7 linked regions of the Homo sapiens genome follow. The protein of the gene in region 1 purifies or fractionates together with the protein of each later gene. This does not show direct contact. Each region holds a gene or a part of one and is shown in the gene's direction. Other genes may lie near its edges. The genes, in order: SLC22A5, AMFR, PIGO, TMEM39A, PGAP4, TMEM165 and GPR180.

Evidence for each region.
Region 2: the proteins of SLC22A5 (region 1) and AMFR purify together in Homo sapiens (co-immunoprecipitation; 2 studies listed by BioGRID and IntAct, with this or other methods). This does not show direct contact.
Region 3: the proteins of SLC22A5 (region 1) and PIGO purify together in Homo sapiens (affinity purification with mass spectrometry; one large-scale study listed by BioGRID and IntAct). This does not show direct contact.
Region 4: the proteins of SLC22A5 (region 1) and TMEM39A purify together in Homo sapiens (affinity purification with mass spectrometry; one large-scale study listed by BioGRID and IntAct). This does not show direct contact.
Region 5: the proteins of SLC22A5 (region 1) and PGAP4 purify together in Homo sapiens (affinity purification with mass spectrometry; one large-scale study listed by BioGRID and IntAct). This does not show direct contact.
Region 6: the proteins of SLC22A5 (region 1) and TMEM165 purify together in Homo sapiens (affinity purification with mass spectrometry; one large-scale study listed by BioGRID and IntAct). This does not show direct contact.
Region 7: the proteins of SLC22A5 (region 1) and GPR180 purify together in Homo sapiens (affinity purification with mass spectrometry; one large-scale study listed by BioGRID and IntAct). This does not show direct contact.

The regions. Positions count from the first base shown.
Region 1 is NC_000005.10:132,376,210-132,379,709, forward strand, and holds part of SLC22A5 (organic cation/carnitine transporter 2), read left to right. Parts: intron 1-1,954; coding exon of another isoform or gene 1,955-2,026; intron 2,027-2,168; coding exon 2,169-2,272; intron 2,273-2,275; exon of another isoform or gene 2,276-3,500. UniProt on the Homo sapiens protein: Sodium-ion dependent, high affinity carnitine transporter. Involved in the active cellular uptake of carnitine. Transports one sodium ion with one molecule of carnitine.
Region 2 is NC_000016.10:56,363,749-56,366,545, reverse strand, and holds part of AMFR (E3 ubiquitin-protein ligase AMFR), read left to right. Parts: intron 1-2,440; coding exon 2,441-2,625; intron 2,626-2,797. UniProt on the Homo sapiens protein: E3 ubiquitin-protein ligase that mediates the polyubiquitination of lysine and cysteine residues on target proteins, such as CD3D, CYP3A4, CFTR, INSIG1, SOAT2/ACAT2 and APOB for proteasomal degradation.
Region 3 is NC_000009.12:35,090,890-35,093,591, reverse strand, and holds part of PIGO (GPI ethanolamine phosphate transferase 3, catalytic subunit), read left to right. Parts: intron 1-11; coding exon 12-171; intron 172-382; coding exon 383-562; intron 563-824; coding exon 825-2,352; intron 2,353-2,702.
Region 4 is NC_000003.12:119,446,616-119,450,115, reverse strand, and holds part of TMEM39A (transmembrane protein 39A), read left to right. Parts: intron 1-2,943; coding exon 2,944-3,098; intron 3,099-3,500. UniProt on the Homo sapiens protein: Regulates autophagy by controlling the spatial distribution and levels of the intracellular phosphatidylinositol 4-phosphate (PtdIns(4)P) pools.
Region 5 is NC_000009.12:101,477,174-101,480,673, reverse strand, and holds part of PGAP4 (GPI-N-acetylgalactosamine transferase PGAP4), read left to right. Parts: exon of another isoform or gene 1-3; intron 4-750; exon of another isoform or gene 751-834; intron 835-3,500. UniProt on the Homo sapiens protein: Golgi-resident glycosylphosphatidylinositol (GPI)-N-acetylgalactosamine transferase that catalyzes the N-acetyl-beta-D-galactosamine transfer from an UDP-N-acetyl-alpha-D-galactosamine to the 4-OH-position of the first mannose of the glycosylphosphatidylinositol (GPI) of a GPI-anchored protein (GPI-AP).
Region 6 is NC_000004.12:55,398,957-55,402,456, forward strand, and holds part of TMEM165 (putative divalent cation/proton antiporter TMEM165 precursor), read left to right. Parts: intron 1-3,500. UniProt on the Homo sapiens protein: Putative divalent cation:proton antiporter that exchanges calcium or manganese ions for protons across the Golgi membrane.
Region 7 is NC_000013.11:94,600,731-94,604,656, forward strand, and holds the start of GPR180 (integral membrane protein GPR180 precursor), read left to right. Parts: upstream 1-1,126; 5' UTR 1,127-1,197; coding exon 1,198-1,342; intron 1,343-3,926.

The DNA.
Region 1 (3,500 bases):
TCCTGATCCTGCTCACAGACCCCCTGCGGCCAATAGGAAAGAAGTGTTAATGCATATTTGCTTTTGGAGGGCCCAAAGCCAGGCCCAGAGAGTTGTCAAGGGCGGTCAGTGGTGGGTGGATGGCAGAGTTAACCAAGGAGTTACACACCTGCCTAGACTAAGGACAGGCTGGACCAAGTAGAGAGGGTGGGGCTAAGGGAGCCTGAGAGATGCTCTGGGGCCTATCTCAAAATGAGCACTATAGTCACCCTGTCCCCTGCAGAGATTGTCTGACCTGGTTTTAGGTCACACCCAACCTTGCCAGCCAAGGAGTCTTTAGAAGCCTGATATTGGGAGACCTGTCCTGGGGTCTACAACCCCAGAACTCACTGCAGAAGCCCACGTGGATTGCTAGTCTAGCTCAGCCATATGGGTCCCCAACCCTCACCTCATGATAGTCCTGTGAGAAACCGCTGCTGACCCTTTGTTCATGTTTTCATCTTTTCCACTATAAAAGACATGCTAGCTGGGAAATAGAGCCCATCATACTCAAGAGTGGCAGGAGCCAGGTCCTGGCCCCTGAAGCTTGGCCTCACACACAGAGGCCGGCACCCTGTCATCAATTCCCTCAGCTTTTTCTCCGCCTCCACTCCCAGTCCTAGATTTAGCAGCCATGTGTGGGTGGGGGCCACTGCAGGGATACTTACCCACCTACCAGAGAGATGGCCTGTGGGTGCTGGCCCTTCTGAGGCTGTGGAGGTTGGAGGCTGTGGCAGCCTGGGCAGTCAGGCTGTGGTCCTCCCATGTTCTTGACTCCTGCTAGTCTGGGCTGCCTCCTGATTAGGGGTTGGATGCTCCAGTTCTTCCCTGGGTTGGGGATTGCCACCCTACTCCCAGCCCATCCAGGTTCACGCTTATTCCAAAGCGGAGCACCAGCAGTGTGCCTGCTGCGGGAGTTCTCCGTGTCCAGCCTGAGGGTTGCCTGCCAACCCCTCTGAGAGGTGCCCGGAGGCTGTGCGCCCACACTGCCCAGCAGTGCGGAGAAGCAGGCTTGTTTTTCCCTGTCACTGGCTTGGAAGAGATGCTTTGTTCTAGGGAGCCGCATGTCCCCTTGCCTGCGTTGTTGGTGAGGAGCCAGCAGGCTCCGTGGAGGGCAGGCTAGCAGCCTGGCACCAGGGAGGCAAGGGTCTGAGTTCCTAGGAGGGTGGTTGCTCATGTGAGAAGTCTGCAAAGGTTACTACTGAGCACCATCTCTCTGTCTGAAAAACATTTTTCATTTTTCTGTGAACCACTAAGTTTCCCGTTTGGGCTTTCTTCCTGCTTTTGGCTCTTGTTTAGGCAGGCGCAGCCAGATCCAAGCGTCTGGCTGCTTCCCCATGTCTTCAGACCTCTTTTTCTGTTCATGGTAACTATAGATGGAACCACACATTGGAAGCTGGAAACTCAAGCGGTGCAGCCTATTCCTTACCCCAATCCCTGTTTTACAAATGGGGAAATCAAGGCACAGCATGGGGTGATGCTTATCTGAGGTTGGAAGAGTTTTAATAGTAGAGTGGGAGCTAAAACCCAGTTTCTTACCTCCAAGCTCAGGACTTTCAGCTGTAATTGAGCCTAGTATAGTTGGTGTGCAGCATCAGGGATTCCAGCTCTAAAGGTCACAAAAAGGACCCGGGGGTCATTGGCCCAGGGTGGGAACCCGAGCAGAGCAGGTCCAGATGGTGCACTCTGTGCCCTGGCCTTAGTTTCTTGCTGGATGCTTTGGCCCGTAGAGCCCCAGAGCCCTGCTTCCAGAACCACTCCAGTGACGTTCATGCCAATGGCCTGAACCCCACTGAGCGAGGGTGCCCTGCCTCTTCCACAGCCCTGGGCTCCGCTCAGATTTTTAGGAGCAAGCGTTAGAGGCCTTGCTTTCTCCAGGGTCAGCATGTGGACAGAACACTTACTCTCTGCCTGTCTCTCCTCCTCAAAATGGAAGCAAGACAGTGGGGCCTACAATGCTATGAAAAACAGGATGGGAAAGAAGCCTGCTCTCTGCCTTCCTGCCCAGGTGAGCCATCACCTGACTAAGTGAGTTCACACTCAGAGCGTGTGGGGATGGCAGGATGTTCTGACTTCATTTTCCAGGATGCCTTTGCTTTAAAACCTTTTAAAAAGAAGTGAATGATACACCCCCTTTGCTCATCTTGCAGTGGAACCTGGTGTGTGAGGACGACTGGAAGGCCCCACTCACAATCTCCTTGTTCTTCGTGGGTGTGCTGTTGGGCTCCTTCATTTCAGGGCAGCTGTCAGACAGGTAAGGTGTCTGTCTTCTGGAGCACCAGGGGACCTCAGCACTGAGGAAGAAGCGTGTGCCTGGCCCTTGATTTCAGTTGGTAGTATTCTTTCAGCGCAGGGCCCTGTATTTTAAAGAAGAGGAAGCTATGTCTGTGATATAGACTCCATGCCTAGTAAGAAGAGCCAACAAATCTGACTCCGTAATTCTTGCTAAGTAAAGAAACCTGAGCTGTCTAAGCTGAATGTATCTGTGACCCGGTTGACTAGGTAATATGCCATGATTCACTTCTGCAGTAGCCTGGCTTGCCTCCCCTGGGTCACTGTGACTCTGTCATGCCCCTGAGCATGGGAGAGGTTGACATCATGCACACATGCACATGTGCTAGATTGTAGATCTGTAGTAGTGCCACGGTGTCTGCCTCTGTAGTCCCAAGAAGACCAGCATTCTCTCTGCAAAGTGAAAGGAGCTCTCACCAGCCACTAGTGGTATGAAAAGCAGAACTCTTTTGTCCACAAGGCTGATGCCCCTTAGCTAAGTGGCCTGTGGTTTTGGCATTTACTTTATGACAGGAGGGAGAATAGTGTTTTGATCCATTTCTTATAAGCAGGTTATTTGTATAATTCTAAAGCTTTTAACTCAAGGAAACATTAACGGCTTAGAGAATCCCAAACCCCTCGAAATTATATGCACAATGTTAGAGACTACATGTGAGCATTTTTTTGGAGAGAGGTCCGTAGCTTTCATGAAGTTCTTAGAGGGGTCCATTATGTTGTGTCTTCTTTCCCTGGAGCTTCAGGGTCTGTCAGAGAAGACTGTGAAGAGAGTAGCAGCCTTCAGCAAGTCCTTGGCCACATGACACATGTGAGAACACCCCACAAATCGGTGGGTTAGCCGGTGGAAAGGAGTCCCAGCATCTTCCCTGGTTTTTAATTCCTGGCCTCAAGCAATCCTCCCTCCATAACCTCCCAAAGTGCTGGGATTACAGGCGTGAGACACCATGCGCAGCCAGATATTTTTTATTGTTGTTGTTTTTTTTTGGAAAAGGAGTTTCACTCTTGTTACCCAGGCTGGAGTGCAATGGCACGATCTCGGCTCACTGCAACCTCTGCCTCGCAGGTTCAAGAGATTCTCCTGTCTCAGCCTCCCGAGTTGCTGGGATTACAGGCATGCACCACCATGCCCAGCTAATTTTGTATTTTTAATAGAGACAAGGTTTCTCCATGTTGGTCAGGCTGGTCTCAAACTC
Region 2 (2,797 bases), on another chromosome or scaffold:
TACAAAGAGGAAACAGTAAACACTACTAGGCCTTCTTCAAATCTGTTGCTGGGTTAAGATTTTCATATCCACCTATGTAATTGGATTATGCATCATTTGTGAAATGGTGCATGGCTTCTAAGGGGTCCATGTCTACATTTCCAGTTTTTTTTTTTTTTTTTTTTTTTTGAGACGGAGTCTCGCTCTGTCACCCAGGCTGGAGTGCAGTGGTGCGATCTCGGCTCACTGCAAGCTCCGCCTCCCGGGTTCACGCCATTCTCCTGCCTCAGCCTCCCGAGTAGCTGGGACTACAGGCGCCCACCACCACGCCTGGCTAATTTTTTGTATTTTTAGTAGAGGCGGGGTTTCGCTGTGTTAGCCAGGATGGTCTCGATCTCCTGACCTCATGATCCGCCCGCCTCTGCCTCCCAAAGTGCTGGGATTACAGGCGTGAGCCACCGCGCCCGGCCTCCAGTTTTTGAATAGCTGGCGCAGCTGAGATATGGATGCTGTGGGCTTGGGGGCATCTGTGGGTACAGCATATTCAGTCCCTGTCTTGATTTTCCACTGCTGCTTCTAGAGTTAGCATGAAGAGTTCTGGATTTTATATATATATATGTATATATAATGGAGGAAAGTATGTATTTCACAGGGAACCTTGCTGTGCAACATTTTTGGTCATTTGTGAAGAAATACAAAGTCCTTGAATAACAATTAGTTAACAGAAACCTCAGTGTAGCCCAGTAAGCTTGTCAGCTCCACTCTCCCTCTGTTCTAATCTCTGCCCTGCCCCGCTCAGGCTGGTATTAGTCAGGCATGCAGCTGCACAGAGCAGGGGTTGCGGTGGGCGGCTGTTTTCTTTCTAACATCTCGCCTCTTCACTCACCATTTTTTCTAACCTGCTCTAGGGTCAGGCTTAGAGGAGAGGGATAGAATAGGACAGTGAGACTCCAGCGTGTGTGTGCGTGTGTGTGTATGTACCTACATGTTGTGCCAACTACGTGTGTCTGTGTGTGTGTGTGTACATGTTATGCCAACTATCTCCCTGTCCCCATCTGGCCCCAGAAACTCCTCCTTTGACCCTGGGCTGGCTATTGATGACCACTCCCACCTTCATGGGGGTCCTGTTACCTCTCCAAGTGGTCCTTTTGGGCACAGTTGTTTTCAACAACCTTAGGTTGGTTCCCTCCTGCAGGAGCCCTATCCAAGCTCCAGGACACACACAGTGTTGTCTGGAGTCAGTGGAAGGTGAACGTGCTCCCGTCACAGCTCCCCTGGCCCTGTATTTTATTGGCTCCTGCCAGTTTCTTTCTGTAGATTTCTCAAGTGTATGCAGCCACCAGTTCCCCCGTCCTTTGACTCTCGGGGATACGAATGGTTCTCTTGAAGTTCCCTCTCGAGCTTAGCTGAAGGCAGGAAAAAGTGAGGGTAGGTCCAGCAGGAACTCTGAAGTAAAACAGCCTGCCTCTCAGCTGCACCCACCTCCATTCTGTCACAGCCTAGAAGCGGGCAATGGGCTGACCCTGGCCAGCGCAGGTCTGCATCTGGGAGCATGAGCAGCGCAGATGGTCAGGCACCTGCTAGGACCTGGGGGTGCCTGGGCATTGTCGTGGACTTTGGAGCTTCAACCAAAGCCAAGGAACCATATAATCCATCCTGTGTCTTTTCAAAAGATCCTTAGGGCTGGGCACAGTGGCTCATGCCTGTAGTCCCAGCACTTTGGGAGGCTGAGGTGGGTAGATTGCTTGAGTCCAGTAGTTTGAGACCAGCCTGGGCAACAAAGCAAAACCCTGTCTCTACAAAAAATACAAAAATTAGCCAGATGTGGTGGCACGAGCCTGTGGTCACAGCTACTTGGGAGGCTAAGTTGGGAGGATCCCCTGAGCCTGGGGAGGTTGAGGCTGTGGTGAGCAGAGATTGTGCCACTGCACTCCAGCCTGGGTGACAGAGTGAGACCCTGTCTGTAAATAAATAAATAAATAGATGCCTAGCAGTTTTCCTTTTTACCTCTGTTTTCAGAGTCAATTGAGGATATAAAATTTGTGCAGAAGATTGGATAAGACTGGTTTAAATGTTTGAGCAATTAGTAGAAGTGAACAGAAAATTCCCAGGATGTAAACTCACGGTTGTCGTGTTGGTAGCGTATTCTAAGAGTGCAGCTTGAAGGTGCTTACGTTTTTCATGCTGGTAATCATTTACTTACCCTCTGATGCCGAACATTCTGTGTGAGTCAGGTCCTGTTCTTAGTACTACTCAAGCCATAGGCAGCAGGCCTGCCCTCAGGGAAGCTGCTGCTCCATTATCCGTAGCTTGTGGTTCCTAGTTTCTGCCTCCCTGCTTGGCAGCAGCCTTCTCTTTGCGTCCAGAACAGCCGTGTCTGGGGTGCCCTGTAGGTGAGGAACCTGCTTAGGAGGGAGGCCTGTGCTCACAGCTGCCTCCTTGCTTCCTGCCCCGTGTCCAGACCGAGCGTGTGCCACTGGACCTCAGTCCTCGCCTGGAGGAGACGCTGGACTTCGGCGAGGTGGAAGTGGAGCCCAGTGAGGTGGAAGACTTCGAGGCTCGTGGGAGCCGCTTCTCCAAGTCTGCTGATGAGAGACAGCGCATGCTGGTGCAGCGTAAGGACGAACTCCTCCAGCAAGCTCGCAAGTGAGTCGCTTCTCCAGACCACCTGGCATAATCCAGATCAAAAACTAGTGGCTGAAGGCCGTTGTCAGGCCGTCTTCTCTTTTTAAACAGATGCCAACAGTGAAACGGCATTACATGCCACCCCAAAACTCAGATTTCAAGCCTCTCTTGAAAAAACCAGAGCATCTGGTAA
Region 3 (2,702 bases), on another chromosome or scaffold:
TTGGCCCCCAGGGGACTTGTGGAGCGTCTGGAGAATGACACACTGCTGGTAGTGGCTGGGGACCATGGGATGACCACAAATGGAGACCATGGAGGGGACAGTGAGCTGGAGGTCTCAGCTGCTCTCTTTCTGTATAGCCCCACAGCAGTCTTCCCCAGCACCCCACCAGAGGTGAGGCCTGGGATGTTCCTCATCTGTTCTCCCAGTAATCAGCCCATGTTACCATTACAGCATCCTCATGAATACCTCTATTTTAGGCCCCCAAATCCATGATCCTGGGTATCCTCCACTCTCATTTCTTACCTAGGCCCCTATGTCTGCCATCCCAAACATTGACTTCAGCTTTGTGATGAATCTGTTGACCACTGTCATTTTCCTTTAGGAGCCAGAGGTGATTCCTCAAGTTAGCCTTGTGCCCACGCTGGCCCTGCTGCTGGGCCTGCCCATCCCATTTGGGAATATCGGGGAAGTGATGGCTGAGCTATTCTCAGGGGGTGAGGACTCCCAGCCCCACTCCTCTGCTTTAGCCCAAGCCTCAGCTCTCCATCTCAATGCTCAGCAGGTAGGTAAGCGGGCTGGGTTTCCAGGTGACAGAGCTAGGGTGGGCATGAAAGAAGCATAATGAACCACTCTTTTGTCCTTTGACTAGTCTTAGTCCCACCTTCCATACCTATCCCTCTTCCGTTATCCCTCCCTTCCCCGATTCTGGACAGAGTTTGGGTCCTTGACTTCCAGGTACCCCCTTTTGTAATACCTATTCTTGCCTCTGCCCCAATTTATGTCTCTGACCTGTTCCCCTTGGCCTCTGACCTTTTCTCTGCCAGGTGTCCCGATTTCTTCATACCTACTCAGCTGCTACTCAGGACCTTCAAGCTAAGGAGCTTCATCAGCTGCAGAACCTCTTCTCCAAGGCCTCTGCTGACTACCAGTGGCTTCTCCAGAGCCCCAAGGGGGCTGAGGCGACACTGCCGACTGTGATTGCTGAGCTGCAGCAGTTCCTGCGGGGAGCTCGGGCCATGTGCATCGAGTCTTGGGCTCGTTTCTCTCTGGTCCGCATGGCGGGGGGTACTGCTCTCTTGGCTGCTTCCTGCTTTATCTGCCTGCTGGCATCTCAGTGGGCAATATCCCCAGGCTTTCCATTCTGCCCTCTACTCCTGACACCTGTGGCCTGGGGCCTGGTTGGGGCCATAGCGTATGCTGGACTCCTGGGAACTATTGAGCTGAAGCTAGATCTAGTGCTTCTAGGGGCTGTGGCTGCAGTGAGCTCATTCCTCCCTTTTCTGTGGAAAGCCTGGGCTGGCTGGGGGTCCAAGAGGCCCCTGGCAACCCTGTTTCCCATCCCTGGGCCCGTCCTGTTACTCCTGCTGTTTCGCTTGGCTGTGTTCTTCTCTGATAGTTTTGTTGTAGCTGAGGCCAGGGCCACCCCCTTCCTTTTGGGCTCATTCATCCTGCTCCTGGTTGTCCAGCTTCACTGGGAGGGCCAGCTGCTTCCACCTAAGCTACTCACAATGCCCCGCCTTGGCACTTCAGCCACAACAAACCCCCCACGGCACAATGGTGCATATGCCCTGAGGCTTGGAATTGGGTTGCTTTTATGTACAAGGCTAGCTGGGCTTTTTCATCGTTGCCCTGAAGAGACACCTGTTTGCCACTCCTCTCCCTGGCTGAGTCCTCTGGCATCCATGGTGGGTGGTCGAGCCAAGAATTTGTGGTATGGAGCTTGTGTGGCGGCGCTGGTGGCCCTGTTAGCTGCCGTGCGCTTGTGGCTTCGCCGCTATGGTAATCTCAAGAGCCCCGAGCCACCCATGCTCTTTGTGCGCTGGGGACTGCCCCTAATGGCATTGGGTACTGCTGCCTACTGGGCATTGGCGTCGGGGGCAGATGAGGCTCCCCCCCGTCTCCGGGTCCTGGTCTCTGGGGCATCCATGGTGCTGCCTCGGGCTGTAGCAGGGCTGGCTGCTTCAGGGCTCGCGCTGCTGCTCTGGAAGCCTGTGACAGTGCTGGTGAAGGCTGGGGCAGGCGCTCCAAGGACCAGGACTGTCCTCACTCCCTTCTCAGGCCCCCCCACTTCTCAAGCTGACTTGGATTATGTGGTCCCTCAAATCTACCGACACATGCAGGAGGAGTTCCGGGGCCGGTTAGAGAGGACCAAATCTCAGGGTCCCCTGACTGTGGCTGCTTATCAGTTGGGGAGTGTCTACTCAGCTGCTATGGTCACAGCCCTCACCCTGTTGGCCTTCCCACTTCTGCTGTTGCATGCGGAGCGCATCAGCCTTGTGTTCCTGCTTCTGTTTCTGCAGAGCTTCCTTCTCCTACATCTGCTTGCTGCTGGGATACCCGTCACCACCCCTGGTAAATATCTCAGCTCTGATTCACTTAAAGACAATAGTGATGTGAGTTCGGCCCCTCTTGTTTTCAAGGAGGTGTTGCTCCTCATGTTCCTGAGCTTGACAGAGGGTCCCATGCCCCACACAACTAGGAAGGTCTTCTTGGTGTCCTCTCTCTTACCTGCCATAGCCAAGCAAATTGATCCCTCCTGTTGGTTCCCAGGGTTCATGGAGAGGAGAGACAAGGAGTCCTCTAAGACTCCCTGTGGAAATGCTGCATCCTCATGAGCACATTTCTTGATTTTCCAGTGATGGAAGTAGTAAATTGTGAATATATAATGGCACTGAGCTGTATGTGTTTGAGAGAAAGAAAGA
Region 4 (3,500 bases), on another chromosome or scaffold:
ATAAGAGCTGTATAGTGATTTTCCTCCTAAAATATCTAAATTAGATGGATAAAACCTATCATAAATCATCTTTCCTTCCTTCCATTAAAATATGTTTTCCTCCTTTTTTTGCATATATCACAGAAAGGATCCCTACCCTGAGAAAGATCAATAATATTTAAGGAGAGGCTGCTGGTAATTAATTCATAAACGGAAATGCTATTCAGAGAGGACTACCTCTCCACGTAGGTAGAGTCCGTTTATTCACCTTCAGGCCAGCTCTGCCTGTTCACCTCCAGGCTAACTCTACTTCTATACTTGCTTCACAAGACTAGAAATAAATTTAGCTGTTTTTTCACCAACCTGAAGCAACTCTCTTTTTAAAAATTGTTTTTCTAGGAAAATAGTATATTTTATTGAAAAAAATTTGGAAAACACTAAAATATAAAGCAGGACATTTAAAAATTGCTCACAATCTCATTATTGAAGACCACTTTTTTTGGGGGGTGGGGGGCAGACAGAGTTTTGCTCTTGTCGCCCAGGCTGTAAATGGCATGATCTTGGCTTACTGCAACCTCCGCCTCCTTGGTTCAAGCGATTCTCCTGCCTCGGCCTCCCAAGTAGCTGGGATTACTCCTTGGTTCAAGCGATTCTCCTGCCTCGGCCTCCCAAGTAGCTGGGATTACAGGCGCCCACCACCATGCCCAGATAATTTTTGTATTTTTAGTAGAGACAGGGTTTCACCATGTTGGCCAGGTTGGTCTCAAACTCCAGACCTCAGGTGATCCACCTGCCTCTGCCTCCCAAAGTGCTGGGATTACAGGTGTGAGCCATTGCACCCGGCCAAAGACCACATTTTGCTATATTTTCTTCTGATCTTCATATGCGTATGAAGATTTTATATTTACATTTATTTTACTATATTTGAGAATTATTTATATACAGTTTCATATCCTGTACTTTAAAATTAACATAATGTTATGAATATTTTTCTGCCCCTCACCTAGCGAAATCTTGCTTATCCTTTAGGTCTCAGCTTAAATACCGTTTACTAACACAAGCCATCTCTAGAATAGGATCTCCTGTTATTTACTTTCCATAGCAGCCTACTCTTCCTATAGCACTCATTACAATTAAAAAAATGATTAGATAAAAGTTTAATATTTGTTTTTCTTGGTTAGTCAGCTTCATAAGCACAGGGGTTTTGTTTGTCTTGGTTACCACTGTACCCCTAGGACCTGGTAAAGGGTCTGTGACATACACCACAGTGATTAGCGGCTTGGGGCTCTGGAATAAGGCAAAATTAACAAATCCAAGCTCTGTGCTCTGATGACATTGGGCAGAAATAGTCTTTTTTATTTCTAACCCTGAACTTTTGAGAAGGAGGTAATAGAGTAACTCCAATAGCTTAAATAACTTTACTAAGCTTTGATATGTGAGGTAAATTGGCATGAAGGTATGTATCAGGGGAGTTATATGAAGCTATGTGCCAGGCTATGACTGAGAAGAGCTTGAGCCATCTTCACAGTTTGAGGCTTAAGCCGTTCATTATGGCATTTATTCAACTGCTGCTTTGCATTTTAAAGTAACTATATATTACGTATATATGCTGTATATATATAGTATTCAGTATACAGTATATTGCGTATATGTTATAGGTACTCCATAATATGATCTGTAAACTAAGAAACGGATATATAGGAGGGACCTGAAAAGCTCCTTATCCCCTACCATGTACTGTTGACTCTAGATAATTTTTTTCTCCTTTTTGGGTTCCATCACTGCTCTCTTAGAGGTTATGGGGATCTTCCATTTTCCCCTACATTTTGCTCATTCTCTTCTCCCTAGTTCATTCAGAAAGAAAATGGCATTGCAGAGTAAGTTTTGACAAGTACTTAATATATTTAGTCAGTTTTAAAGATTTGCGATTGAAGAAGCATATTTGAATAGCTGTGATAAAAAGAATTGGAAGTGATTATGCATTATTTCCATGTTTGCAAAAGTTAAAAAAGAAACTTATTTATATAGGGATCTGTCAAAGAAGATCGGATTATTTTTTGAAACTTCACTAATTTATTAAACATTAATTCACCAAGCAAATTAGAGGTGAGGATTCAAAGAAAAATAAAAATATTGTTACTGCTGTTGAGGCCCTTTATAGTTTAGTGGGAAGTAAGACAGATAAATTAGTGTCTCTCCATGTTTATGTACATAAAAAATCAGGCCGGGCACAGTGGCTCATGCCTGTAATCCCAGCACTTTGGGAGGTGGGTGGATCACGAGGTCAGGAGTTAGGACAATCCTGGCCAACATGGTAAAACCCTGTCTCTACTAAAAATACAAAAATTAGCTGGGCGTGGTGGTGTACGCCTGTATCCCAGCTACTCAGGAGGCTGAGGCAGGAGAACCGCTTGAACCCAGGAGGCAGAGGTTGCAGTGAGCCAAGATTGTGCCACTGCACTCCAGCCTGGGCAACAGCAACAGAGCGAGACTTTGTCTCGAAAAAAAAAAATTAAAAATAAATAAATAAATAAAACACTGGTTAAGTTGTTAAAATATAGGTTGCTTGACTCAAGATTTTATTCCTTACCCCTTGAGAGGAAAGTTGTTAGGAGTTTACATGTCCAATTAGTAGCCCAGGTCATTCTGATGGAACAAAATAATGTGATCCGTGGAACATACTTTGAGAAGCTCCAATGTTAATAAATTAGATGATATAAAAAGACCTTAAAAGAGTTCTGTAGATGGCACTCTCGGGGTGCAAGAAGGAAACAACTGTGCCTGGAGAAGTCTGAATTTTCAATTATTACGAAGATAAGGTGGGATGGGGCAGTTTTTCTTTTATTTCACTTTTTAAAGACACATTTTAGCTTCCACTAAACCTATTAAGTTCTTACTTGAATTACAATGCTTTTGAAGAAGATCATTTACAAAATGTTCATTTTGGTGCTTCCAAACTTTCAGGCTACTAAGGCAGGTGCAGCATCAATGATTCACTACATGGTTCTGATATCAGCTCGCTTGGTACTACTCACTTTGTGTGGATGGGTACTTTGTTGGACCCTCGTCAATCTCTTTCGAAGCCATTCAGTCCTCAATCTCCTTTTCCTTGGCTACCCGTGAGTACTCCAGTTTTACCATGTTATTAGTAAATCTTTAGAAATTATTTCGGTCACGTAAACGATACTTTTAAGAGTGAAAAATGAAATTCTTCAAATATAAATGAAGCATTTAGAAAACTGGGAAATCCATGAGCATGGTGAACATATAATTTGTTTTCTAAACTGGAGTACAGTTGGGACAACAGGCATAAACCAGGACTGTCCTGGGAAACCTGGAATGTAGGGTGTGTTGCCAGTGGAGAATATTTTAATTGTCTCTCTTCACCAAGTAAAGGCCCCTCTTGCTATCTATATTTGGGTAAACGGTAGTTAATTTTAGATGAATGCACTGGTTCGAAAACCAGTCTTACCCTTGGTTGGTCATATTACTTTGATCTTCTGTTTCCTGTAACAGAAGTA
Region 5 (3,500 bases), on another chromosome or scaffold:
TAGGTGGGTGTGGTAGATTGCATTAATGTTCAAAATGCCCCTCCCTGGAGTACATTTTCTGCCCCTCCCTGGAATACAAATATTTCTCCAGTCATTGGTCTCAGGTGTGGCCATGTATCTTTTGGCACTCCCTTCTGCTCTGTTGAATTTGAGTTATTATGTGATTTGTTCCAGTCAGTGAAATGTGGGTGGAAGTGATCTGTGTCACTTTTGAGCAGTGGCTTTGAGAGCCAGCTTGTGGTGCACTATTCCCCTTTTTTCTCTCTACCACAAAACCAGCAATGTTAAAAACAAACAAACAAACAAACAACAACAACAACAAAAAACAGTTCTATCTGCCTGGGTCCTAGAGTACAAACAACAGGCAACAGAGGCACAATTGACCTGTAAAGGACAAGTACTATGAACAAGAATTAAACCTTAGTTCTTATAAGCCACTGAGATTTTGGGGATCATTACTGAAGCCTGTCCTTATTCGTGTAGTGTGTAATGATTGGGGTTGGGGGCCGGGTCTTAAGCCCTGTAAGCATTCTAAAAAAAATTTCCATACTCCGTGAGCAGATTGCTAGATGCTTTCTTTTCTCCTGAGGATTTAGAAATTGGCCTGTTGCCTTTTTTTTTTCTATTGAATCTTCATTTTCCCCTCCTTCTGCTCTGTGGGAGGAGTAAATCTTCCTGTCCCATTGTTTTGGCCAATGAATGATGAGTGGACTTGATTTGTGGCACACTGAAACAAGGATGTAAATGTACCTGCATGTTTTGACTTGGCCTCTTGTGCAGCTTCCAGGCAACGTAAGAACACGCCCCAGGTGGCTGTTTCCTCTGCAGCTTGATCTAGAAGGAGGGGCATGTGGCATGAGCTAATTCTGACCTACATTCTGGAGCTGACCCCAACTGAGCCACAGCTATCCACAAACCCGTATGCAAGAAATACATGTTATCACTTTAAGTTATAAAGATTTGAGGCTGTTAATCACCCCAGCAAAGCTGATCAATATAGGTAGGGACCATGTGTCCTCTGAACCAAATCCCTCTCTTTTCCTGATTGTCAGTAGAACAGCAGTCTCACAGACGTAGTTTTAAAGTAAAGGACTATGTGAGATGTTAATGATTTTATTGTCCCCAGTAGGATAAATTCCCTGGGACCAAAGGTTCTCCTGATGTCAGTTCTAGGTGTTTCCATTTCTTTCCCCCCTGACATATCATAGTAAGTGATAGCCTTTACTATGTGCCTGGCATTTTCCAAACTGCCTGCCCTATCTCATTGTCTCTAGTTCCCTCCTCTAGATTGATCCAGCTCCCTTGTGGTAATAACAAAGGCAGGGATAATAGTATGAGCAGAAATCCACTCGAATGCCTCCTTTTCCAAGGCCAATACTGCAGGAGTGGGAGTTCAGCCCAATTCTAGTATTGGCTTCCATCAGCAGTGATGTGGAAGTGGTGAGGCCACGTTCAATCACGTTCAACCACATGGTTTGTTAACTCCATTGCGCTGAGCAGAGCAGAGGAAGAAGCAACCAGTCTGCAATATGCTGGATGTTCACAAACCAGCAAGACTGGGGTTGCATAATTCAAACCTCTCCTTGCTTTGTTCCCTCTTTGGGTACTATCCAGATCTCTTAGTACTAGGATAGTCTGTCTCACCTTTGGAGTCCCATAGTACAATCTGCTTCTGTGGCTGAAATGAAACTTGTTTCTCTACTTGAGAAATTAACCATGTCACTGTACATTTGGTATTCTACACAACTGTAGAGGGCAGAGTAGGCTAACTGCTGTAATAAAGTCCAAAAATTATTGGTGTCTAGACACAGTGGTTTATGTATTGCTCACAACACAGTCCACTCTAGTTTGGGAGGGTACTGGGAGGTGGGCAGCGGAAGGGACATCTGTTCCATGCCGTCCCAACACTGGGATATGTATGTAAAGGATTCAAGGACCCAGGCTTCTGCCATCTGGTGGCTGTACCTCCTCTAGATCCACCAGGGCTCTCCATTCAGCTGGCAGATGGGGAAAGAGAAAGTCGAGATGGCACATCTGTTCTCAACTACCTTGTCCCAGGTGTGACACCTGTCACTTTGCTGACAAGCCCTAGTCACATGACTCCACCTGGAGAAGGCAAACTAGGAAATGAGGTCTTTCTGTGTGCCCAAGGGGAGACCATGGATATGAGAGCACTGGCTGAGTCTGCTCCACAGCAGCCTCGTATGGTTCCTGGGCAATCCTCCCTTTGCAATAACTCACAAACTATACAGTTTTCCTCCAAATGTGTGTAAACCTTATGATGCGTCTGAGGCAACAGATTTACTTTCTGTACTGCAGACACCATTTAGTTTTGCATTGACCTTACTAGCAATTATTATTTTATACTGGCTTTGCCCTTTTCATTCTGTTTTTTGGCACTAGTCTGTTTTCCATCAGAATATTAGACCTGCTTACTTCTAAAATATTTTTGTGAGTTTGAACACATGGATAGATTTTAATGGCATTTTTACTCTGCATTATTTTGCTTTCTAACACATTTAATATTCACAGTAACCCTATGAGACAGATATTATTATTTCCATTTTAGAGCTAAGAAATATAAGATATGGAGAGGTAAACTTCCCACCAAATGAGAGGCAGAGCTAGGATTCACACCAATATGAGCCTGGCCTCAGGCCCATGCTCTGAATCATCATATCACACAGCATTTTTTCCTGGACCAAACTGAGGGCAACTGTCTCTTCCATATTCACCTCTGCCTTTCCCCCCCCGCTCCCTCATTGAAAAGCTACTCATGGATCTTCCTCCAGATGTTTCCTCCCTCCCCAAGCCTGGGGCTCTAGAGTTTGCTTGCTTATGGGAAATACTTCCTCTCATTGGTTCCCATGATCTATAAAAATAAAATGGGAGAACAATCAGGATTAAATTAATATGCAATGTTAAGTATAGTTGTGTGAGATTAGAAGCATATGAATGGAAAATGACATTAAATAACAAAGATACTTCAGAGAATCCTAAGTATTCCTTCTCTTGTTGGACAAGTTTTTTTTGGAAATTGCTATATGCACAGTTAATCAACAAGTATTTTCTGGGCCCTTATTCTGGAACTTGCTCTAAATGTGTATATTTCCTTTGTGCCAAGCCTTGCTTTTTTGCCCCCGTTTTAAGAACCCATTGTCTGTGTAGCTGGTGAATAGAAATAATGATCCCAACAGCCTACCTGGAGATTTTCTGGCATTGTAAACCTAACTAAGTATCTTTAGGCGTGATGATTTGGTTGAATGCACCGAGATCGTATTACTCATAGAAATAATAAAAACATCCAGAGGTTGTTAGCAGACACAACCAAAGAATGGTTTACTGTAGAAAATACTTTAGAGTCTGTAGAAGCTACAGAGCCTCCTATTATAATTTCTGGTTTGATATGTGCTGAGCTCAGTTCTTGTCCTTTTGTTTTTTTGTTTGTTTGTTTGTTTGTTTTTTTAAGTTACTCTTACCATTCCCTACTTCCTCTCTCT
Region 6 (3,500 bases), on another chromosome or scaffold:
GAATTAAGAGAACTAAGCTTTTATCATCTGCTGGATATAATGTGATTTTGTAACCATTATTGGATTGGTGTTGGTTTAGACAGTTTATTTTCAGCTGACTATATAGTTAATTCCGGGACTCTTATAAAGTTTTTTTTAAAAAGAGAAAAAGAGAAGATCAAAAGCACTGGAACTCAACGAGTAAATAACCCATGGTAACAGAGAGATATAATGCAGTGATGTCAGAGGTGTACAAGAAGTGTGAATCATTTAACATGTGAAGCCAGGGTCTTTAGTCCACTTGGGGAGAGCAAAGAGGTGAGTGGGCTTCTCCATCTTTTTCCTTCTGCCTGCCCTGCTACCCCCAGCCATATGCTTAGGAGTGGGGTTCCCATTTACACTGCCCTGCTTGTCGCTCCTGGCTCAGCTGACCCTGCTTGACATGTCCACTTCAGTAATTGAACTGAAACGCTGATTGATGAACTTAATTCTTAGTGTTCATCTTTTAGCCCTGTCATTTACCCCAGTATCACATTTATTTTAAAACAATAACTATTTTGGATTAAGTTAATTGTGTGAGTGAGAGATTATGAATATGTAACTTTGCAGGTATTTTGTTGAAGTTTTAGTCATATTGGAATTTTTAAGATAGAAATGATGGTAGGTGTAGAGCTACTAATATCCTTTTTAAGAAGCTAGGAAAAATCTAGCCATGCAGAATGCCACAGTGGTAGAAACAGTGTCCAGTAAACATATTAAATGGTCTTAAGGATTCTTGTCTTTTAAAGTTTTATTTAATTTTTTTTATAGAGACAAGGTCTTCTTATAGCTCATAACTCATTGCAGCCTCCAGCTCCTGGACTCAGGCCATCCTCCTGCCTCAGCCTTCTGAGTAGCTGGGAAGGGATCCTTGTCTTTAAAACTAGGGGTATGGAGGGAAGGGTGGGTATAATATAATATGATTTTTCCGTTTAATATTTTCATATATTCTTGGTGATTCATTTTAGTTAGGCATTTATTTATTATTGTTTATTCTAATTTTGTATTATAATAGAATATAATTGTCTTCTTTTCTTCCTTTTTTTTTTTTTTAGAGACAGGGTCTCACTATGTTGCTCAGCCTGCCCTCAAACTCCTGGGCTCAAGGGATCTTCCCCTCTTGGCCTGCCAAAGTGGTGGGATTACAGGCATGAGCCATCATGCCTGGCCTTGTCTTGTTTTTATTTTATATATATAATATATATAAAAAATAATATATAAATATATAATTTATATTTATATTATATATTAATATATTAATGTAATTAATATTATATTATATTAATATATAATATATAATATAATATTATATATTATATATAATATTATATATAATATTAATACTGTATTATATATAATATAATATTAATTATATTATATTAATATAATTAATTATATTAATATAATAATAATAAATAATATTAATATAATTAATATATTTATATTAAAATATAAAAATATAATATATATAATATATATATATTTTTTTGTCTCACTCTGTCGCCCAGGCTGGAGTGCAGTGGCGTGATCTTGGCTCACTGCAAGGTCTGCCTTCCAGGCTCACGCCATTCTCCTGCCTCAGCCTCCAGCATAGCTGGGACTACAGGCGCCCGCCACCATGCCCGCCTAATTTTTTGTATTTTTAGTAGAGACGAGGTTTTACCGTGTTAGCCAGGAGGTCTCCATCTCCTGACCTGGTGATCCGCCTGCCTCGGCCTCCCAAAGTGCTGGGATTACAGGAGTGAGCCACCACGCCTGGCCTTAATTATATTTTTATGTAACTTTTTGATACTACTCAAGTATTTTTTCCTCTACGGTACTCACTATGCTGAAAGATTTTTCTTTCACATGTTTTCTAAACTATGTAATATAAGTGTCATTGGCTATTTTTGTCCACCTGATGGAGGTAAGAAATGATCAAAGTACAGTTTAACAGCAGTATTAGCAAGAGTTGAGCCTTGCTGAATATGTAAGTTTCAACGGATTTGCTTTGCAACTACATGCAGTAGATGTTTTAAGAGGGTAGGTAGGATATTTAAATTTAACCTTTTTGTGCCACTGTGTGAGAGTGGGCTTCTGAAAATGGAGGGGGGAAGCATCTCTCCTTGGTTAGTAGGCATTCAAGTGGAAGATATGTTATAAAAACCTAGTTGTATCTTATAGGATGCTAAAAGCAAGGTGACTGAACTTCTAACAGGGCATTCTACATTGAGTATGTGCTTTTCTCTATAATTAGGCTAAAAAAAGGTTGGTAAGTAATATGAACTTAAAATCAAGATTAACCCCCAATTTACAAACCCATGATAAAAAGTGTTGTTGATTACTTGGATCCTATCTTTTCTGCAGTTTATGTTTCTAGTGACTTACTCAATAGTTTTTTCTTACTCTTTCCCTGGACAGAATATGTAATATAAGAAACATAAGTCCTTTGAGTTGAGGGAGATCAGATAGATTTAATAAAAGTCATTTAGACTTTATTGCATATTCTGGAAGTCCAAAGAAGAATGACTCTGGTTGCATAGCACTTCTAATAAAGCCACAAAATCATTACCTGACTCAGTGCCTGTTCTTGTTATCATATTTTTACTTTATGTTTTGGTATTTCATTTATTTATTACGTTTCAGCTGTGAGAGTACCTTCTACAAAACATTTTAAACTTTTTTCTATTTTCATTAAGTTGCAGTCCCACTCCACCCAGTCCAGCCTCCTAATTCTAGCCTTTATACAGCTAAGATTGAGGCAATCAGTTATAAGGACGCCTGCTCATAATTACCTTCTCAGAAGGTAATTATATTAATACTGAATTTATTTAGTGGTATGCTGTCATCAAAAAAATTCATTAAAAATAAAATCAATGAAGGCCGGGCGCAGTGGCTCACGCTTGTAATCCCTCCACTTTGGGAGGCCGAGGTGGGTGGATCACCTGAGGTCAAGAGTTCTAGACCAGCCTGGCCAACATGATGAAACCCCATCTCTACTGAAAATACAAAAAATTAGCTGGGCGTGGTGGCACACACCTGTAATCCCAGCTACTCAGGAGGCTGAGGCAGGAGAATCGCTTGAGCCCGGGAGGTGGAGGTTGCAGTGAACCAAGATCGTGCCACTGCCCTCCAGCCTGGGCAACAAGAGCAAAACTCTGTCTCCAAAAAAAAAAAAGAAACTAAACACATTTAATAAATTTCAAGTGCATAAATACATTACAAAACAACATTCATAAAAATAAACATTCATTAAAACAAAAAATAATTTTATTACAAAATATTACATATAAATTCTAATATAAATTAACAAGTAACAATAAAGTATTTAAAAATAGTGAAACCATTCACAAAAATACGTAATGAAAATTAAAATACTTTAATGTTATCTTTCGAAATCAGGTTTATCTGTGGTGTCATTGTTTAAGTGCGTGCGTGTGTGTGTGTGTGTATATATATATATATATATATATATATATATTTTTTTTTTTTTTTTTTTTTTT
Region 7 (3,926 bases), on another chromosome or scaffold:
GAAGTAAGGGATTCTGGTTCCAGGGGCATCTACTACAGACTTAGGGGTTTGAGAAAGGCTTCTTAAAGTGCCTTGGGAAGGAGGAGTAAAGGAGGAAAAGGAAGGTGAGGAGGTCCAGTGTTGGAATAAGCAGAAGTATTCTAGCCAGAGGGATCAGGGAGTGATATAGGCCTAGAAGGGAGAACTTGGGAGTGTTCAGGAAACCAACGGCGGTAAGGATGGAGATGAGAAAAAACAGACATTTGAGAGTTGAAGAGCCATATTCTAGAGTTTGGGTTGTGTGCTAAAGGCAATTGAGAACCTTTCAAGGCAAGTGCAGCAAATTGTTTCCTACAGCTTTCTGTGGCTGTAGGGTAGAGATGGATTGTAGCCAATTAGAATGAAGACTGTAGAGACGGTCTTTGCCATAGGCCAACAAAGTGATGAACTGAGTAGGACTGTGGCCGCTGCTTCCCACCCTCACCAGAAGAAGGGCTAATCCACACTTGTTATTGAATTGATTGAATTGCGGGGGGGGGGGGGCCTACAATTCCCAGCGGTCTGGTCTGCGGGCGGGGGTGGGGGTGGGGGTAATGTAATTCGAGAAGCCAGAGAACCTAGGAGGGAAAAATCGGCTGGAGATGCCAAGAGAAGGCATGCGTTAAATTGTGGTCATGCGGAGCTAAGTGTCTTTGAGACATTAAATCGGACACGTCCTGTAGGTTATACAGGCGCCAAGGAAGAAAATCTGCATAAGAACACAGTTTTTTCTTTGCGGGAGTTTAACTCTCTCGGCCAGAAACAGTCCTGTCCTGCATTTCTTAAGTTTTTTCCGAATCCCACAAGCCCTTCGAAGGCCCCGCGGACTCGTGCCAGCGCGCCCGCGCATGCTCAGTAGCAAGACGTGCTAGGCAATGAGGAGGGAGATGAGTTTTCCGTAACCTGAAGCAACATCCTCCTGATTCCTCATTAAAGAAAAAGGCGGGAACTAGTCAAAAGCCGGGGACTGATGGGACGCTAGGATCTGCGCGTCCCGCCCATTTCGGCCTCTGACTGGTGAATGTCTTCGGCTTATGGCAGAGGAGCCCGCCTCATTGGCTCTCAGGCTCCAGAGCAGCAGGTCTCCGGCGCCCACCCCGCCTCCCCCAGCTGCCGACGTGGGGCGGGCAGCCGCCGGCGGCTGGGAGCCGAGGCGTCGGTGCAGACCTGGAGACGGGCATGGGGGGGCTGCGGCTGCTGGCTGTGGCCCTCACGTGCTGCTGGTGGCCGCAGGGCAGCCAGGGTAAGACCCTGCGGGGCAGCTTCAGCAGCACCGCGGCCCAGGACGCCCAGGGCCAGCGCATCGGCCACTTCGAGTTCCATGGTAGGTCTGGGGGCGGGGAGGGGGATGAAGGCGCGCTGGCCCATCCCGCCGGCTGAGTCCGCCGGCCGCTCCTCCCGGCCCCTCCCTGCCACGTTGGGCGAGGCCGGCGACTTCCCCAGCCTCACCTGGACCTCCAGCGTTGCAGCAGCTGCCGCGAATGGTGGGATGCGTTCCTTGCCAACCCCGCTGGTGCGGCTTTCCAGCCCCAGGCAGCGGCCTCTCGCCACTAGTGATCGTGTTCCGCACCTGAAAGCTGGTTTCCATTTCCCCAACCCTCCCCTTGGAAGCCAATGTGCAAAAGACTGGTCGGCCGCATCTTTCCAGATCCTTCCCGCAAAGAAGCATATTTGCTCCTTCCTGTCTCGGCCACACTGTGACGGGAGAATTTAACCCTAGAAACTTAAATTTCCTTTTTTTTTTTTTTTTTTTTAAAGACCAATTTCCTGAGACCTACTTGCAACAGAGTGGTTTTGGAAACCAAGTAAAACACTTGATAATGTAGTTGTTATATTGAGCAGTTTGGTTACTTGGCTACTAGGGCAGTAGATTTACTATGGGCAGTAAGGCCTAGAATTAAGCTGATGAAAATGCATTTAAGTAGCATCTTGGAAGCTCCCTAATTTGTGTTCTGTGTGGCTCTTCTGAAATCAGAGTTGCGTTTGATTTCAGACCTTTTGGTCTTCCTCAAAAATCAGTAATTATTCCTTCAATAAATGCATTTGCAATTCATTCTAATTTTGGTCTCATTTGCACTCTCACAATTTAAGTGTTTTTCTTGGTACTCTTAATTTGACTAGTGCTGTATTTCAAATAATTATTTGCCTTGATGACATTAGGAACTTTGATTTGTACAGTCTTTAGCATTAAAAGATGCAACGATGAACATCAGAATATTGGCCTAGAAAATATTGTTAGGAGAAGATAATAGAAACGGAACTACTTTGGTGAGAAAAGGAATTTAAAGTATTGGGAAATTACAGAATTGACAGAATAAAGGGAAGGGATCCTGATTTTTTTTTTTTTTGAAGTTTTTAAGATAGCTAAGAAAAGGAGTTTCAGTAACCCAGTTTTTCAAAATCCAATGTGGAATATATTTTGGGTGAATGAAGAAGAAACACTAGAAACAATTTTATTATTTTTTGTAACATTTTGAGTTTCTCATTCAACGGACTGTAACCATACTTTGAGTATTGACAGCCACTGTCTTAAATGGCACAATGTGGACAGTGTTGGAAAATGTGGGATGTATAGAAGACGTGGGTTATTACTTAGGACCAGCAGAGAGACTTGGACGACCTCATAGTTCCTGATGATCATCTGGTAAACGTGGAGGAGAAACATGTACTAAATTCAGATTTCTCAAGACAGATTGGGGATAAGGTGTTTCAAGTGCGTTCATTCTGTTTCATATGTGTAAAATCACATATAGTTATTACCAATTTTCATGAATCCCAATTCAGTAAAATAATAATACAAAAACTATACTGAAACAATGAACTGTAACTCGGAATGCAATTTACAGTGTCAATTGGGCCTCAGAGTCACTTGTAAGACTTCAAAATATGTAATCAATTTATGTAAGAGACTTGCACATTCTTTGATATATATACTGTATATTTAAATATATTTAAAATGTTTAATCAAAGTGGTAATTATAGTAATAAAAGCATAGAAAAAAAATTTCCAGGAGAATAGAAGATCTTAAAATGAAAAACAGTCTCCTGTCTTAGCTCTTTCACCCAGAATCCCTTTCCCTAGAGGCAATAACTTACTGCCATTTCTGTTCTGGGCCTTAAATGTAGTTGGTGTGTGCAACCAGGTTCATTCTGTATTCATCTTACAACATATATTATTCTGAAAGTTCTTTTTTTTTAAAAAGGAAGCCAGACTCGTTGGGTGGCTCCTGCCTGTAATCCCACCACTTTGGGAGGCAGAGGTGGGCAGATCACTTGAGGTCAGGAGTTCAATACCAACCTGGTGGCTGGGCGTGGTGGCTCACACCTGTAATCCCAGCACTTTGGGAGGCTGAGGTGGGTGGATCACCTGAGGTCAGGAGTTAAAGACCAGCCTAGCCATCATGGTGAAACCCCGTCTCTATAAAAATATAAAAATTAGCCAGGCATGATGGCAGGTGCCTGTAATCCCAGCTATTTTGGGAGGGTGAGGCAGGAGAATCGCTTGAACCGGGGAGGCGGAGGTTGCAGTTAGCTGAGATCGTGCCATTGCACTCCAGCCTGGGCAATAGGGCGAGAATATGTCTCAAAAATAAATTAAAAAAAAAAAAAAAGACCAACCTGGCCAACATGGTGAAACGCTGTCTCTACTAAAAATACAAAAATTAGCTGGATGTGGTGATGCTGGGTGTGGAGGCGCATGCCTGTAATCCCAGCTACTCCTACTCAGGAAGCTGAGGCAGGAGAATCAGGAGAATCGCTTGAACCTGGGAGGTGGAGGTTGCAGTGAGCCGAGATTGCGCCACTGCACTCCAGCCTGAGTGACAGAGTAACACTCTGTCTCAAAAAAAAAAGAGTTTTGCTCTGTCACCCAGACTGGAGTGCAGTGGTGTAATCAAAGCTGACTGCAG